Linked DNA regions of Homo sapiens: region 2 is linked to region 1. The links come from fine-mapping of genetic effects on gene expression. A gene starts in region 1. The other region holds a variant in brackets. All regions are shown on one strand. Distances are between the middles of the regions.

The links.
Region 2: its variant is fine-mapped to the expression of CTU2 in fetal neocortex (Walker 2019, PIP 0.95).

Annotation. Positions count from the first base shown.
Region 1 is chr16:88,703,218-88,712,410 of GRCh38, reverse strand. It overlaps CTU2 (cytosolic thiouridylase subunit 2), which reads right to left and starts at 5,908. Exons shown (of 15, transcript NM_001012759.3): 1 at 5,813-5,908; 2 at 5,201-5,275; 3 at 2,395-2,473; 4 at 2,129-2,188; 5 at 716-776; 6 at 28-137. The coding sequence starts at 5,880. RNF166 (ring finger protein 166) reads left to right here and starts at 6,003. Exons shown (of 6, transcript NM_178841.4): 1 at 6,003-6,240. The coding sequence starts at 6,086. RefSeq lists silencers at 5,640-5,949, 5,990-6,269 and an enhancer at 5,891-6,528.
Region 2 is chr16:88,590,072-88,599,477 of GRCh38, reverse strand. It overlaps ZC3H18 (zinc finger CCCH-type containing 18), which reads right to left. Exons shown (of 18, transcript NM_144604.4): 4 at 1,152-1,300; 5 at 766-858. Among named protein-coding and RNA genes, the nearest start is that of ZC3H18, 24 kb to the right of the region's middle. RefSeq lists an enhancer at 7,518-7,767. The variant A/GA (reference allele first, on the strand shown) is at 4,001.

The sequences.
Region 1 (9,193 bases):
ACCCCTTTCCAGGGACAGCCCTCCCACCTCCTCTAAGGCCACCACATGCCATGGGAACCCAGTTGCTTGCAGAATGGGCTTCACTTCGGCCAGGGTCTTTGATCTCTCCTCTAGGCTCTGGCCACAGGCTGCTCCCTCTGAAAAACCCAGGCAGAAAGAGTCAGGGCTCAGAGAGGAGCCAGGCAGGGCAGGCTGCAGGGCCACCTCCACCTGGGAAAACCCTTCGAGGCCTCGCTCCGCAGGGCGGTGCTTCCTGGCGGAGCTGTGGGGTGTCGGCCATTTTCCTTTGGGCAGGGGTTTCTCTCTTGCGGCTGACCTCAGCGCTACAGTCAACACCCCAGGAGTTCGTTCTGCAGGAGCAAGGGTCGGGGAGTCGGCCCCTGGGCCCCCGCTCACCATCAGCACTTAACTTGCCCTTCTTTGTCCCCAGACCCCGTGATGGGGGCTGGGCAGCCGCCACTCCTGCTCCCACCCCCGACTTTCTAAGGATGTTCTTAGATTCCAGGAACAGTGATGCCACCTAACGATGGATACATCTGCTGCCTCCTTCAGGGAGATGTCCCCACCAGGCCCTCAGTGCAGGGGCAGCACCAGTAGCTCAACACATCCTACCAGAGGGAGGACCGGCACCAGAGGGAGGGTCCACACCAGAGGGAGGATCCGCAGGGCTTACCCCAAGTGGCCAGGGACTAGGAGGAGCAATGGCCCCACATACCGTCAACAAAGATGACTCCTGCCACAAAGCGCAGTCTTTTGGCAGAATCTTGGCTCAGGCCCTAGAGGGAGAAGCAGCAGGGACTCAGCCCCCAGCCATAAGCCACAGGACACTTTTCCAGCTCAGAACATTCTTCATCTGGATTTAATGCCATCTTGGAAGGTGAAGTGGTCTTCCCCTGCCATTGCGTTTATTGGACAAAGCCATTCAGACTCAGGTGCCGGGCAGGCCCAGTAGGCGAGGCCGCACGCCCGACTTATTTTAAAGGGTAGCCTGGGGGTCTTCATCCCCCTGGTAAAACATGCCCCTCACCAGCTGGTCCTGGATGTCCCAACAACGCCCCAGGAGAGGGGGCTGGGTTACGGGGCCACTGTGCCACCATCCCACACGCTTCTGACCACTAAGGAAGCACTTGCTCTCACAAGCAGAAACCAACAGCCTGCAAGAGGCAGGGGCGCCGCTGGGCACAGGAAGGGCAGCACCAGCGTTACACAGAGGGCTGGGCCAGTTCCCTCACAACACCCTCCTGGCAGGTTCAGGGGACCTCAGAAAACAGAAAACTAATTTCAGCAGTGTTGTGCCATGCGCCCATCCTGAGACCAACACCCCACTCCTCAACCCGGCAAAGCCGACCCCTCTCCTCTCAACCACCCAGCCCACAGAAACAGCCTCCTCCGGTCTGCACCTCTCATGAGAGTGCAGAGAAACCAAGCACATCCCGCTCCTGTGCCCTCCTGAGAAGCCCGACCTGCCTCAGACTTCCTGAGCTGACCCTTGACAGGCCACGGGCACAGCCCCACCACCCCCAGCCGAGCCCTGTGTGCAGCCTAAGCCCGCCTCCACCTCCCTGCGCGGGCCGCCGCCTCCACCTCAAACGCTGCTCCCTTTGCTTCTCCTGGCAAACCCCCGCCCCTTTCCCAATCTTCCCTCGGGTCACACATGGCTGAGCCAAGATGCAGCTTTCCACTGACTGTGTTTCTACGCAGGTTGAGCAAATGGACAGAAGTCAAGTGGGCCGCACACACGCACTCTGGACCCAGCTTCTGATTGGTGCACCTGCTGTAAACACATCTGAGAGTGGGCCGCACACACGCACTGTGGACCCAGCTTCTGATTTGTGCACCTGCTGTAAACACATCTGAGAGTGGGCCGCACACACGCGCTGTGGACCCAGCTTCTGATTTGTGCACCTGCTGTAAACACATCTGAGAGTGGGCCGCACACACACACTGTGGACTCAGCTCCTGATTGGTGCACCTGTTGTGAACACATCTGAGAACCCCCCAAGTGTCCAGGCCGCAGGGTGGACTGCTCTCTAGCCCCAACCAAGAGCCCCTCAGCAGGCTGAGAAGGGAGGCCCCCAGCCTGAAGCTCAGCCCAGCAGCCCGGGCCCACGGGGTGGTGAACACGCACCTCAAGAACCTGCCAGACCATGGAGCTGGACGAAGGCCCCCCAGACCACGCCAAGAGCACCTGGGGGAGAAAAAACATCACTCAGGGCACCGCACCTCCAACACAGGCAGACACCCCACCTCGTGGACATCTAGGACATCGAGTCTGTCCTCAAAGGCCAAGGAGGAGCTGGCGGGCTGCAGCAGGCCAGGCTGCCTGTGGGAGGGACAAGCAGGGACCTCGAGGGGCCAGGCTGCTCAGTCAGACCCCCAGGACCCAGACGCTACCTTCTCGCCTGGAAAGATGAGCCGGTTCTTGCCCAGCATGGCTCTGAACTTGTGGACGTAGAAGGCCTTGAAACAGTCCCTGCAACACAGACCTGAGATGAGGGAACCGCCTGCTACCCGCACAGTGAGCAGCGTCCTGAGGCGCTGCCAGGTGACGACGTCCTTTGCCAATCTCCATCTTTAAAAGCAGCATCTTCACATCCAGGCTCTGTCCAGAGACTGGTGAAAGGGGCGGGGTTGGCCCCTCTGGCAGTGGCTTCCTCAGGGTGAACACGAGGCTCACCGGCCCCTCCCACGACCAGGTACAAACTGCACAGCCACGGAGGCTGCATCCAGCAAACGAGGGCAGAGCCCCGGCACCCCTCCCCACAGGCGCTCAGAAGGGCCCAGCTGGTGGAGTGGACAGACTTAGGCACGTACAGGGCAAGGCCAACCCAGACCCCATAAAAAAAGACCCACCACATACAGACACCACCTCTTGGAGGTGAAACGTGGAAATGGAGCGGGCCACAGCGAGGACCCACCATGCAGAGACACCACCTCTTTGGGGTGAAGTGCGGAAATGGGGTGGGCCACAGCGAGGGCTCAGTATCCTGGGGCCCCAGAGCTGGCATCTTTAGTGTGCTGGGCTCAACTGGGCCAGGAATGGCTAAGAGGCTCACTCACAGAGTGGCCTGGGCTCCTCCCCTAACCCCACAGAATCAGAACTTCCAGGCCTGGGAACTGCATTTTTAAGAGACAGGGTCTCGATGTGTCACCCAGGTTGGAGTGCAGTGCCACAGTTATAGCTCACTGCAGCCTCAAACTCCTCGATTCATGTGATCCTTCTGCCTCAGCCACCCAGGTAGATAGGACTACAGGTTACAGATATATGCCACCATGCCTAGCTAATTGTTGTATTTTTTGTAGAGACAAGGTCTCACTTTGTTGCCCAGACTGGTCTCAAACTCCTGGCCTTAAGTGACCCTCCTGCCTGGGCCTCCCAGAGTGCTGAGATTCCAGGTATGAGCCACTGCGCCCAGCTGTAATCTTTGTTCATAATAAACTTTCCAGCCATCTGACTCTGGCTCACTACGTCAGGGGTTCTTGGCCCTGGCTGTATGTTAGAATTGCACAAACCAATTAAGTCAAATTGTCTAGGGGTGAGGCCTAGGAGTCTGCATTTTAAAGCTCTCCTGCAATCCTGGCAGGCAGGGTGAAGAGCAGCACCCGGTACAGAGCGGACAATGCCACTGCAAGAGTCACCCTGCACCTGGGGCTCTAAGTCTCTTCCTTCCTGTCAGACACACTTGATGTGCACAGCAGTCCCTCCCTACGTTGAATGGATACCACGTACAAGAGGCCGAATGACCCCCCTGTGGTTCCTTTACAGACAGTAAAGCAAGTCTGTGTTTAACAGCAAGATGCCAGGTGAGGGACTGCAGGTAACTGGCAAGTATCAAGGCTGGGACATGGGAAGTGACCCCCAGGACCCAGCTTTGGGCGTGGGGAGTCTCATACAAGGAGACACAGGTGCTGGGCTTCACCTCCGCACTGTGGACCAGGAGAGCCTCTGCGCCCTACACCACCAGCTGGGATTCAAGCGTGGTGGGTCCACGTGTACATGCTGCGTCTGGGCTCCTGAAACCACGCTGTCCCCTGTGGGTCAGGGAAGGCCAAGGTTTCTCCCACGTGCTGACCTGAATGATCCCTGGGGATCCCAGCTCGATGTAGATTCCTAAGGCCTTCCCCTAGAGAGCCGGCTCCCCACTGTTCCTTGGGACCAGCAAGCACAGCAAAAGCCCTTCTGGCCACAAGGGCCTAGCATACAGCCACAGCAGCCTCTCCTCAGTGAATTCTGCCGGCAGCCTGGTGTTCTTGGCAATTTCAGATGCTCCTGGGTGGTTAAAGAAGTACCTATCTTGGCCAGGTGTGGTGGCTCATGCCTGTAATCCCAGCACTTTGGGAGGCCGAGGCAGGTGGATCACTTGAGGTCAGGAGTTCGAAACCAGCCTGGCCAACATGGTGAAACCCTGTCTCTACTAAAAATACAAAAACAATTGGCCGGGCATGATGGCAGGCACCTGTAATCCCAGCTACTCAGGAGGCTGAGGCAGGAGAATCACTTGAACCCAGGAGGTAAAGGTTGCAGTGAGCTGGGATCATGCACTCCAGCTGTTGCACTCCAGCCTGGGTGACAGAGGGAGACTCCATCTCAAAAAAAACAACAACAACAACAAAAAAACCACGCACCACCACTGGGAATTAAGAGGGCTAAAAGGAGAGAGACCTGGTCCTCCCTTCAGGGAGCTATGAGTCTAGTGGAAACAACTGAACAATACAATGGCTACAAGCCAAGAAAGACATGACAAGCGCCTGGGGGAAAGCTAGAGGTCTTCCAAGCCTCTATCCTGCCACAGATGAAACAAGCATCTCACACGAGATTAAAAACTTTCACCCAGACCATCTGCCAAGTTCCCAAGATGCTCTGATCCGCCCCTAGATGTATTCCAGCTGCCCCCAAACGCCTGGTCCTCCTACAGCTTATCCCAGTCTAGACACCACGGCCCCACTTCCAACTGTCCCCATAAGTTCCATCAGAAACCTCATCAGGGGATCTGTGGCTAGCTCATGGGAAACTTTCCCAAGCAGGAAACCAATGCTTTCGCCTCCACTTCAACACCAGGGGCACGAGGGACCCCATCAGGAGCAGGAATAAAGTAAGTACATGTTTTTAAAAAGAATTAACAAAGCATCACAAGTTGCGGCTATCCTGTCTGCTAGCGAGGCCATGTTTGCCAGGGTCTCAGCCACCTCCAGGCCTCACCTGCAGAAGGCATCTCCGGCTCGTATCACCACAACGGGCTGCGCTTCCTTGCACTTCACACACTTCTGCTCACGGCTTTGGAGATGGGAGGGGGGAGAAGAGAGAAACACAGATCACATCTTCCCCACGCCTAGTGGGCTTTGGGGAGACAGCTCCTGTTTCTCACCCTGAGTTGGGTCAGAGAAAGGCACCTCGGTACACACACAAACCCAGGCTTGTGTTCTGTCCAAACTTCAAGAAAAACAAAGGCTCTGGGGGGATGTTTAGCCTAGAAAAGCCGGCTCAGGGGGCACATAAAGGCCGCTTTTCAGTCTCCCAAGGCTGACACGGGGAGGCGAGACAGCTTCACGGCACCAGTTCTCTCCGAATAAGGACAGCACTGTCAGCGGCAGAGCCGTCCCCAGTGGCTGCTAGGATGAGAGGCGCGAGCCAGTGGAGTAAGTCCCCTTCTAGGTGGCCGTCACCGCTTGACAGGCATTCCCCGAGTGCTAGGGAGCGAGGTCCCGCTCTCCACGCGGGGCTTCCCGGAGCAAGCCCGGCCGGGACCCTTCGGGGCAGGAGTGCGGCGGGAAGGCGAGGGGCGGCCTGGCGGGTCCGGCCGCCAGCTCTTACCTGGGCCGCGGCGCCGGGGGCGGCTCCTCAGGCGCCGGCTCCCCGTAGTCCTCGCCCACCTGACACATGGGCACGCCGGGTCCCGTCGCAGACTGTGGCGGCGACAGCGCGAGGGCGCGCCCCGATGACGTCGGAGTGGCGCCGTGACGGCCGCGAAGCCCGGCTGGGGGCGGCGCCCTACGATGACGTCAGCGCGGCGCAGTAGCGGCTGTGACTAGCGGGCCGGCCCGGGCCAGGACAGCGGGCGGCGGGCGGCGCGGGCCTGGCCCCGGGATGGCTATGTTCCGCAGCCTGGTGGCCTCGGCTCAGCAGCGGCAGCCGCCGGCCGGGCCGGCGGGCGGCGACAGCGGCCTGGAGGCGCAGTACACCTGCCCCATCTGCCTGGAGGTCTATCACCGGCCCGTGGCCATCGGCAGCTGCGGCCACACGTGAGCGCGCCCGCCCAGGGGCCGCGGGGAGGGGGCCGTGCCCCGCCGCGGGAGGGGTCGCGAGGCCGGCGGCCGCCCCGGTGCAGCTCCGGACTGGGCGCGCGGGGACTCGGGGCGCCGGGGCCTCGGGGCGCGTGGGGTCCGGGTTTCCCTGTGCCGCGCCGCCTCTGCCCTCTGGGCGCGTTCATCCCCCGCCCAGCCTCCTTCGCGCCAGCCGCAGGCGCCCGGTCCGACTGCTGCTTCGGTTCACCGGGCGACCTGCGGCCCTGCCCAAGCTCGGGGTCCCCGGCGGCTGCGGCGGGCGCTCCGGTACTCAGAGGGCAGCAGGTGCCACCGCTCCGCCAGTGGTGGTGGATTTGGGCTTGTGCGGCTGGAATGGGCAGTTGTAAATAAATAACTTGTAGTTTTTGCTATCAACTCTTGTTCGGACCCGCTGTCTGCCTGTTTTGACTACAGAGGAAAGGAGTTCCCTAAAGTTTAGAGGGGCTTGTTTGGAGTCTGATGTTCTTAGTTTTGTTTGAAGGAGAACTTGAGTCACACCGATCACTGAGTAGCCAGGCAGGCTGGTCCACAGAGGAGCAGACACTGACCACCTTGCTGGGGTTTCCAGCTGCACCAGGGCTCACAGCCGGCTCCTCCAGGGTGTTTCAGGAACAGAAACTGGAGGACGTGGCTCTCCTGGCGGGGAGCTGTGCTCAAGTATTCTGGAGCTGCCAGCCCCGTTGGGAGGAAGCCTAGATCAGTGTCTGCTCCCTCCTAAGTGCTGAATAATACAGCTCTTGAGCAAAATCAGCAGTGGCAGGGGAGAGAGAGAGCAGGAGGGCTTCCCCGCAGACATCCAAGCTGCTGAGGTGGTGGAGTGGAGGGGGGTGCACCCAGACTGGTAGGAGGCTCTAGAACATTTTGCAAGCAAAGTCAGCTGACTTCAGGGGCTCCTGGTACAGAGGGAGCTGGGACTGCTAGGTGGATGTGTGCTGGTCACCCACGGAGGTGGCAGGGCCAGTGTCAGGATGCAGAGCTGCCTTCATTACCTGTGTCAGGCAGCACAGGCGCCTGCCCACGCTGGGACAGCTCTACCTACTTCTCTTGTGAGGCTGCTACAGGCTCTGCCCCTGCTCCTCCATCTCACTTAGCCGTGACATTTTGGGGGGGCAGCCTCTGAACGGGAATATTTTTTTTTGAGACAGAGTCTTGCTCTTGTCACCCAGCCTGGAGTGCAGTGGCGCCATCTCGGCTCACCGCAACCTCCATCTCCTGGGTTCAAGTGATCCTCCTGCCTCAGCCTCCAGAGTAGCTGGGATTACAGGCACCCGCCACCACGCCCGGCTAATTGCTGTATTTTTAGTAGACAAGGGGTTTCACCATGTTGGCCAGGCTGGTCTCGAACTCCTGACCTCCGGTGACCTGCCCGTCTCAGCCTCCCAAAGTGCTGGGATGACAGGCGTGAGCCACCGCGCCTGGCAGGACTTCCTTCTTGTGAGCAGGTAGCGGGTGTTTGAAGGTGTGTTCCGCACCTTCTCATCTGTTACTGAGCGCTGTGAGGCTTGACTTAGGCCTTGTTTTAGAAAAGCCTCCCGTAGGCTTTGGGTGCCAACACCTTCACCGTGTGGTCGGCCACAGCATCTCCACTTTCCTAACCTGCACAAATTGGTCTTTGCCCTTCTTTTTCAAATATGTCTTTTCCTAAAATGTAGTTTCCATAACACAGAATGCAGAACCACATGGAATTGTGGAGCATCTTTCCTATAAAACTCCCCTCTGCCATGCTTTTCTTGGTAGAATGACGACCATCCTAGTCTCACCGCGGGTCCTGCAAGAGCTTTTCACACAGCCTTTGCCTTTCAAAGATTTTTCTCCCCGACTTTTCCTGCTGGCTTTTGTTTTCTGGCTGTTCTCTCTCTGCTTCTAACTTTGTTTCTTGTTGGTGTTGCTAAGGCATGCATGCAAATGACCACAGAAAGTTTAAAGGCTCTTCAGGTTCCCTTCGGAAGTTTGTTGCTGGTCTGGTTCTGTCCCCTCCGCAAGCTCCCCAACCAGAGCAACTTCCTCCTCCAGGGTAGATCTCTCATGGCAAGAGTATCCCAGTGTGGGGGCATGCACCCTGCTCTAGCCCTCGCGCAGGAGGCCCCCTGGGGGCCCAGCAGGAGCTGTTCTCAGCCAGGGGACAGTCTGAGCAGTGAGCCACCTCTGTAACCAGAAGCCTGTGGGCCAGGACACGCGTGATCACGAACCTGCCTGGAAGGGCTGTGTGAGCAGCCTCCACTCGTGCAGGACAGCTGTGGGGCTTGCTGAGGGTGCTGGCCTGCCAGCCAGGCAGATCCCTGAGGCACGGGCCGTCCCAGCTTCTCAGCTTGTGCAGCGGCCAGTGTGGGAGACACATTGGCAGTCCCGGGTGCCTGCTGGGAGGGCCAGTGCGCGATCGCCCCTCCCTTTGTAAGGCTGTCGACGCCCCCACACCCATCGCCCTCAGCCACTTCCTTCAGCTGAGAAGCTGCTCAGCACCAGCCCCTGGGTGGGCGCAGACAGGAACTTCCTGTGGGGGAAGCGGGCACTACTCCCGGCTGCTGGCTCTCTGAACACCAGGCTGGCAGTCACTGGAAACTAGGCCGATAGAGCACCCACCCTGTGGGTGCCTCGTTCTGCCTCCTGCTCCTCGGGCCCAGCCGCCCTGCCAGTCGGGCTGGGTTCCCTCTTGTGTCTTTCCTGAGTCCTTCCGGGGAGGACGAGGCTGTCTTCCTCCCAGCCAACCTTCTGGGCACCTTTCCTCTCTTCCCAAGCTCTGCCTGGGACCCTTTTCCTTCCCCTCAGCCCGTGGCCGTGCTGTGCAGCCGAGCCCCGGCCTGGTCTCTGGCAGCTCAGGGTTCACTCAGGAGGTGCACCATCCAGTCGTTTCCAGTGTGTTTGCAATTATGCAACAATCGATGCAATTCTAGAAGATTCTTCCCACTCCAGA
Region 2 (9,406 bases), 110 kb after region 1:
CTGGAGTCTCAGAGGGAAGGAAGTGACATGCCGAGGGAGTGAGAAGGAACATCTTGTCCGTCATTTCCCAGCAGGGAGGCTGACCAGGAAAATGAGGAAGTGGGGCTGGGTGCCAGCAGAGTGGTCCCCAGAGCTGAAGCTCACACACTGGGGCCAACGTGGGCCTAGAGGGAGGAAGTGTGCAGTGATAGGACCAGAAAGCTCCAAGTTTTCTCCAGGAAGAGCAGACACTGAGTCTCAGGAGTGTGGGGTGCAGATCCTGGGGGTGCGGCTCGGGCAGCCTCGCCAGGCTTTCTGTGAGTGGCTGGAGACTGCACCCTGTGCTCCTGGGCAGTGCCAGCTGGGGTGTGGCCCAGTGCTGATCCAGCCCCATGAAGACAGTGGGTATGCCCTGGACTGAACTCCCTGGCCTACTGGGCTGCTGCCTGAGACAGTTAGATATAACTCTCCATCCTTCCGGGCCTGGTGGCGCATGCCTGTAATCCCAGCTACTTGGGAGGCCGAGCAGGAGAATCACATGAACCTGGGAGGCGGAGGCTGCAGTGAGTCGAGTTTGGGCCATTGCACTCCAGCCTGGGCAACAAGAGTGAAACTCTGTCTCCAAAAAAATAAATAAATAAAAAATAAAGAAAGACACCACAGAAACAGACGCCTAACTTCAGAGATTTCTGGGGCTCTCTCTGGACCGAGGAAATCCCAGTTTTGTCAAGAACCACTCCTGTAATAGCATCTTTCTTGTCGGGATTTCTGCTGAATTGTGTTTACCTCCTTTGCATGCCGGAGTCCTCGTTCCCAGGCACTCTCTGTTGGGGGCTCTGGAGGGGGTGGAGGCAAAATTTCATCAACTACCGGCCCACCCTATTGAAAAACGAGAAGGGAGAAGGTGAGAAAGTAAAACTTTCAAGTGTACAGAGAAACCAGACAGTAAAAACATCAACTACAACACAAGCCGGCCGTGTGTGGCCGCTCTCCTTCCACCAAGCCTCACTCCGTCCTCGGAAAGCCGAGGCCTGCTTCCACTCGGGACGACAGAAGCAGCCGAAAGGGGGCACTGAGCCTGTGCTAAGGCACAGTGACTTGTCTTAAGCTTGAGATTCAGACACAGCTCAGTTGGCTGATGTGCTAACAATGAAAGAAGAGGCATCACGCACCCAAGGGTTGGCGGGCATCAGCGGGTGAGGTCCGAGAGGCGGGGCACCATTAGGCGGGAAGGGGTCGGCTTTGGTGATTAGGGAGTAGTTCCCCTTGTCGTTCACTCCAGGGTGTATAAACCTACAATTCATTCCCCAGGTACAGTTCCCTATGGAAACAAAAGTGAGATCAGAAAGGGTCCACAAGAGCCTAATTGCACAAGGGCAGCTGCTGGGGTGGGGGGTGGGAGGGGGCAGAGGCCATGTTTACCCAGGCCTGATGGCGAGCCACACAGTAGTGGGAACTGAACGGGGAGGTGGGCGGGATGAGCCTGGAGAGGCTGAGCCAGACAGCTGCACCTGCCCAGGCACGGCAGTTCCCCAGAGGCTGCCAGGCACCTCGGTCAGAGTGACCACAAAGTCACTTTGTGGAGAGTTCACGCGTATCAACTGTCTGAGTATTAATTTTCCCCTTAAACCAGAAAAGCCCCAGAGCTTTGCTTCCAGCCCTGGCCCAGGCTCATCTAGGTACAACTGGATGTTAATTGTATTTGTGCCGAAACAGACATCAATGAGAAGCATTAACAATGATCAGAAGCCTGCAGGTGTGCTCAGGGTCCCCTTGGCCACCTCTGTACGTCTGCATTTCTCTCACAGAGAAAACTCTCACAGGGCATTTCAAGATATTTCTGGAACTGAAACGGGCTTTTACACTTTGCTCATAAATAACAATCACAAACCTTCATCTTCAACAGAATATCCGGGTTAGTAAAGGAGACCTCGACTTTCAAGTGTAGAATATAAGACATCTAAGTGTCTAACTCAATTACTGAGTGAATCACTTTTTTAAAATGTACTTTTTTGGGAATAGATAATGTGTACACATTGTTTAAAACCAAATATGGCATATAGTATCTAAGCGGTTTAAAAATTTTTTTCAATGGGTTAACATGCAGTTAGATTTTAAATCATTTAAAATTTTAACCTTAAACATCAGGAACACTTAAGCCTGCATTAAAACCAACTCAATACAACATAATAACAATATCGATCCAAATTAAACACGAAAGAAAACTTAAAACTGCTTCTCTGGAAATGCAAAAATGACAAGTAATTTTTAAAATTTCTAAAAGCATTTCAGAGATCACACATAAGTCAAACGAAGTTGGGAGGCCAGGCGTGGTGGCTCACGACGTCAAGAGATCAAGACCATCCTGGCTAACATGGTGAAACCCCGTCTCTACTAAAAAATACAAAAAATTAGCCGGACGTGGTGGCAGGTGCCTGTAGTCCCAGCTACTTGGGAGGCTGAAGCAGGAGAATGGCGTGAACCCAGGAGGTGGAGCTTGCAGTGAGCCGAGATCGTGCCACTGCACTCCAGCCTGGGCAACAGAGCGAGTCTCTCTCAAAAACAACAACAAAAAACAAAAGAGGTTGGGAAATGTTATTCTATAGGGGGTTCAAAAATCCAGAGCCTCAGAGAGATTTAAAGAAAAACTGACTATGCAGTCATCCATCTGAGACTCAACACACTACAGAGCTCTTCATGGTTTGCCTCTGAAAATACTCATGCAGTATTCAAAATCACGTGTGTAACTAAACAAGTAACAAAAGCTCATTGTAAAAAATGTCCAAGTACAGAAAAGTGCTGACAATAGAAACCACAGCTTTTCTGTACTCCTTTTCCTTTTTTTTTCAGATGGAGTCTCACTCTGACTGAGTGAGACAGTCCCAGGCTGGAGTGCAATGATGCAATCTCGGCTCACTGCAACCTCCACCTCCTGGGTGTCAGTGATTCTCCTGCCTCAGCCTCCTGAGTAGCTGGGATTACAGGCGGGTACCACCATGCCAGGCTAATTTTTGTATTTTTAGTAGAGACGGGACTTCACCAACTTGGTCAGGCTGGTCTCGAACTCCTGACCTTGTGATCTGCCAGCCTCGGCCTCCCAAAGTGCTGGGATTACAGGCGTGAACCACCACACTCGGCCTCTGTACTTCTTTTTCATCTAAAATATGTATCTGGGTGGTGGCTAAATGTTATCGTTCTTTTCTGTATTTATGAAAATTTTTAGGACATCACCTACGAACCTACTATCAAAAAAGATCCTTTCTCACTGATATTGGCATGGGGAGAAAAGAGGAACAAGGCAGAAGAGAACAAACCAGTGAGCGCCAAAGAGCAAGCTGAGAAGGCGAGCGTGGGGCTGCCACTAGAGACCAGACACTAGTGGGTGACAGTGTTCAGCTCTCGGGAGCCACCTGCCCGGGGGTGCTGAGCGCTGTCCTGCCCCTGGCCAGAGTAAAGGGGAAGATGGCTCTGGAAAGCAGCACAGTTGGTCTGCACGTCTAGCTGGGACACACTTCCAGCAGACGTCAGGCAGAAAGAACACCATTGTCCCATCTATCTTTTTAAAATGTGAACTTTTATCTGTGTAGGAACACACCCAACTGTCGGGAATGTGGGAAGGGGCTTTAGATTTTATTTTCTTGCCTTCTGCCAGCCCATATTACTTTCTTTCCTTTTTTTAATTTTTTTTTTTTTGAGATGGAGTCTCGCTCTGTTGCCCAGGCTGGAGTGCAGTGGAGCGACCTAGGCTCATTGCAACCTCTGCCTCACAGTTCAAGCAACTCTCCTGCCTCAGCCTCCCGAGTAGCTGGGATTACAGGTGTGCACCACCAAGCCCGGCTAATTTTTGTATTTTTAGTAGTGACAGGGTTTCGCCATGTTAGCCAGGCTGGTCTCAAACTCCTGAAGTCAGGTGATCCGCCCACCTCGGCCTCCCAAAGAGCTGGGATTACAGGTGTCAGCTACCGTCCCCAGCCTTACTTTCATAATTTAAAAAGCAATTTGTTAAAAAAAAAAAAAAAAA[A/GA]AAGAAAGAAAGAAATTATCCAGAAAATAGAAGCAACAATAAAGATCTTCTGGTTTACAAATGGGACTTCAAACCCAAAATTTATGTGGATTGTGATTCTAACAGTATAAAGATAGTTCTGCGGATACTGTGTACACAGACATGGCCTCAGGCCAGAAGAGGACAAGGAGGGACAGAGGCCGCTGGAGCGGGGCGGAGGCGGCCCCTCCACTGCTGAAATGTCTAAGTACTATTTCTGGCTTCAAGACAGGATGATGGTCTTTTTCTTAACTGGAATGTCGGCACAGCAGCAACTGGTTTTTCTTTTGTTTTGTTTTTGTTTTTTTGAGATGGAGTTTTGTTCTTGTTGCCCAGGCTGGAGTGCAATGGCACAATCTCAGCTCACTGCAACCTCCGCCTCCCAGGTTCAAGTGATTCTCCTGCCTCAGCCTCCCGAGTAGCTGGAATTACAGGCATGCACCACCACGCCTGGCTAATTTTGTATTTTTAGTAGAAACGAGGTTTCTCCATGTTGGTCAGGCTAGTCTTGAGCTTGCGACCTCAGGTGATCCGCCCGCCTCGGCCTCCCAAAGTGCTGGGATTACAGGCATGAACCACCACGCCCAGCCAACTGTTTTATTCTCTTATTAATCTTTACGCTTGTGTAAACACTGTATTATTTTATATATATGAAATATTTCATAATCAAATGAAATACTTGTAAATAAAAAATACCCACCCACTCTAAAAGGTACACTGTGAAGTTGACCACCTATCCCATGCCTCCAGGGCCATTCCCAGAGGCAGTTATCAATATACTGGGGCTCCATCCATCAATCATTGCCCCCTTTTACCTGAGCATATATATTATGCTCTGTGCTGAACCTTGCTTTTTTTCACTAAACAATGTAACTACAGAAAGGGAACCTGCATGCTCAGTAGCAACCAACCCAAACTGGATCAGGGAAACAGACAGGAAACAGATAGGAAACATGGAAAATCCGGAAACTAAACACAGAGGTGGCAGGAACTGAGGCTCAGCTCATGCTCCAGCACAGCCCACACATGAAGTATCTTTAAATGTCTCTTCTGATTTTGAATACAGTAAATATCAATTCCCTGTGTTTACTTGGTTTATATGTGTCATTTCTATTGATACGTACGATATTAGAAATTAAGAGACACTTAAAGATATCTCATTATTTAACAATAACAAGATATCCAATATATAGTAACAAATATTTATGAAACTGTTTTTAAAATATTTGGTGAGAGGAATAGCATTCTTTGCCTTTTTGCGAATCTCTTGAATGCTGACCCTGGAAAACCCCTGGCCTCCCATCTGCATGCGATCGACCATGAAGGGCCGCTGTGGCTCAAGCAGGAGAGGACATTACAGCCCCAGGAAGAGATGCAGCTAGAGAGGGAGGGGCATCTAAAAGCCTTTTCAGTGTGCTCAGAGCTTCTCCCTGACACCGCACTCAGCAAGGGAAGGCTCCTTACAGCGAGCTGCAATTGAACCCTATCACCACACTTTTCCAACTTGGTTCTTCTGAAATCCATTGGTCTATCTTGAACTTTGAATGGGTCTTTTACCCAGGCATGATTCTGTGACATCCTGCAATGGTCACCTGAGAAAGTCCTGACACACTGAGAAGCTGGTGAGCACACAAAAGTCCAATTTTCAACTGAAAGCTCCAATTTTAATACTGCTAACACTGTCCGTTGTTCTCCTTGAAGCCACAGGCTCACTTTGTTCCTGCCAGGACCCGGATCTGCATTCCCTGGCATGTCTGCCAGTCTTTCTCATCAATGTGTGCTCCACGGAGAGCGCACAGGGTCAGCCGCAGCTCCAGCCTTGCACGTGCTGCCCCTTGAGGCCGCTGGACTTGGGTGCCGGCAGGGGCTCTACCCACGCTGCCACTCCACCACGCTGAGTACTGAGACACACACAGAAGCTCTGCTTTCTGGCTTTCCACAGTTTCAGTTACCTGCGTCTGAAAATACTAAATCGAAAATTCCAAAAATAATTCCTAAGTTTTAAATGATGTTCTGTGCTGAGCAGCGTGATGAAATCTTGTGCCGACCTCCTCTGCCCCACCTGGGACACGAATCATCCCTTTGTCCAGCAGATGCAAGCTGTCCACGACGCTAACTGCCCACTAGTCACTTAGCAGCCCTCTTGGCCAACAACCGTTGGGGGTACGGCGGTGCTGTGCTCACTGTGGCTCAGTGACCCAGGATCACTGGGGGCAGGTGACCTTCCTTCTGACGCATTGGCAGGAGGTCAAGGGGGGCCCAATGCTAAGTGGCAGGGCCTCCGTGTCATCATGCGAGCATATTTCATCCCACGTCATCAGATGGCTGAGTGGCTGAGTGCAGTAAAGTGAGCTCTTTTGAGAGATCACATTCACATTTTTATTACAATTGCTCTATTTTATGATTGGCTATTGTTGTTAATCTCTTACTGTGCGTAACTTATAAATTAAACTTTATCATAGGGATATGCTTATATAATCATGGAACTGTACACTTAAAATGGGTCAATTTCATGGCACATAAATATTACTTTAATAAAGTTTTTTAAAAAGAACTTACGAATAATAAAAATAAATAATACATCTGTACACAAGTGTAAGATTTAATTAAATTACAGTTCTTACTACTACAGCACAGACATGAAGTAAAGTGGCATTCGAAATGCCAGTGCATGGTGAATGCCTGGCTCAGCCTTACTGTTATTATAAATATAGTTTCGATTTGGGAGGCCAAGGCGGTCGGATCATTTGAGGTCAGGAGTTCGAGACCAGCCTGACCAACTGAAACACAAAATTTAGCCACTACTAAAATACAAAAATTAGCCAGGCATGGTGGCATGCGCCTGTAATCTCAGCTACTCGGGAGGCTGAGGCAGGAGAATCGTTTGAACCCGGGAGGTGGAGGTTGCAAGTGAGCTGAGATCACGCCATTGCACTCCAGCCTGGGCAACAGAGGGAGACTGTATCTCACAAAAGTAAAATAAAATGAAAGAAAAAGAAAAATAAATAAATATAGTTTTGACCTCAGGGTCCCCTGAAAGGGTCTCAAGGACTCCCAGGGGTTCACAGATGACACTCAGACCTGCTGCTTTAAACACAGTTTTGCAAGGATTCAAAACTGAGCAAAAGACATTTCTCCAAGAAGATACACAAATGACCTATTAAGCACATGAAAAAAGACACCCCACCACCCATCTTCAGGAAAGGCAGATCAAAACCCAGTAAGATATTACCTCCTACCCACTGAAATGGCTACTATCAAAAAAAAACAGAGAACAGAGTAATGGTGAGGACGTGGAGAAACTGGAAGCCCCCACACCACTGGTGGGAAAGTAAAATGGCACAGCCACTGTGGAAGACAGCTTGGCGGCTCCTCAAAACATGAAACATACAACCACCAGGTCATCAGCAACTCCACTGCCAGCGGCTCCGCAAAAGATGAAACACACAACCACCAGGTCATCAGCAACTCCGCTGCCAGCGGTTCCTCAAAAGATGAAACATACAACCACCAGGTCATCAGAAACTCCGCTGCCAGCGGTTCCTCAAAAGATGAAACACACAACCACCAGGTCATCAGCAACTCCACTGCCAGCGGTTCCTCAAAAGATGAAACACACAACCACCACGTCATCAGAAACTCCGCTGCCAGCAGTTCCACAAAAGATGAAACACACAACCACCAGGTCATCAGCAACTCCACTGCCAGGCACATGCGAAAGAGCTGAAAGCAGGGTCTGAAGAGATTTTTACGCCCACGTTCACAGCAGCTCTATTCACAATTGCCTAGAGGTGGAAACCACCCAAGTGTCCACCCACAGATGAGGGAAACACCCAATGCAGCTGCTCCACACTAACAAATATTGGTCAATCTTTTTTTTTTTTTTTGGAGACGGAGTCTCGTTCTGTTGCCCAGGCTGGAGTGCAGTGGTGTGATCTTGGCTCACTGCAACCTCCACCTACTGGGTTCAAGCGATTCTCCTGCTTTGGCCTCCCAAATAGCTGGAATTAGAGGTGTGCTCTACCACCCCCAGCTAATTTTGTATTTTTAGTAGAGACAGGGTTTCACCATGTTGAGCAGTCTGGTCTCGAACTCCTAACCTTGAGTGATCCACCCACCTCGGCCTCCCAAAGTGCTATGATTACAGGCATCAGCCACCGCACCTATTATTCAGTCTTAAAAAGACAGAAGGCCAGGTGCAGTGACTCACGCCTGTAATCCCAGCACTTTGGGAGGCCGAGGAGGGCAGATCACGAGGTCAGGAGATCGGGACCATCCTGGCTAACACAGTGAAACTCCGTCTCTACCAAAAACTACAAAAATTACCTGGGCGTGGTGGCGGGCGCCTGTAGTTCCAACTACTCAGGAGGCTGAGGCAGGAGAATGGCGTGAACCCAGGAGGCAGAGCTTGCAGTGAGCCGAGATGGTGCCACTGCACTCCAGCCTGGGTGACAGAGCAAGACTCCATCTCAAAAAAAAAAAAAAAAAGTATTCCACCACAATTTTAAAAAATTAGGGGGAGCACAGCCAAGGAGATCAGACCCAAAAAATGGACTGGGATGCTTGTTCACTGAGGGATAAATCAGAAGCCCAAAGTAGGGGCCGGGTGTGGTGGCTCACACCTGTAATCCCAGCACTCTGGGAGGCTGAGGTGAGCGGATCACCTGAGGTCAGGGGTTCGAGACCAGCCTGGCCAACATGATGAAACCCCATGTCTGCTAAAAATACAAAAATGAGTTGGGGGTGGTGGCAGATGCCTGTAATCGCAGCTACTCGGGAGTCTGAGACAGAAGAATAGCTTGAACCCAGGTGGAGGTTCCAACGAGCCGAGATCTCACCATTGCACTCCAGCCCGGGTGACAGAGCGAGACACTGTCTCAAAAAAAAAAAAAAAAGAAATAAAGAAACCCAAAGTGGGACACAGTTTAAAGAAGATGCTACTTACTCCTCTGTGGACAGAACTTTGTGTCCTGATGATCCAACACAGGCCCACGAGAGATAAAAACATCCCATGAAGAAGTACAGCTCCAGTTGTAGTGTATGTGCTGTGGAGCCGGGCAGGCGTACACAAAGCACTGATCTCTAAAATGTGAGCAAGGTGTGTTCCCAGTGCATTTTGCTGTCATTTGGTCACAAATCTCAATGTGTCCACTAAGCGATTAAATGATTAATCTCTATATCACAACGTGTCGGAGATAAAGCTAAGAGAGGCCTGAGCAGTGGCTCATGCCTGTCATCCCCATACTCTGGGAGGCTGAGGTGGAAGGATTGCTTGAGCCTAGTATTTGAGACCAGCCTGAGCAATATAGTGAGATCCCATCTCTACAAGTAATTTAAAAAAGAAAGATGAGCTCTTGCAATGTTGCCCAGGCTGGTCTCTAACTCCTG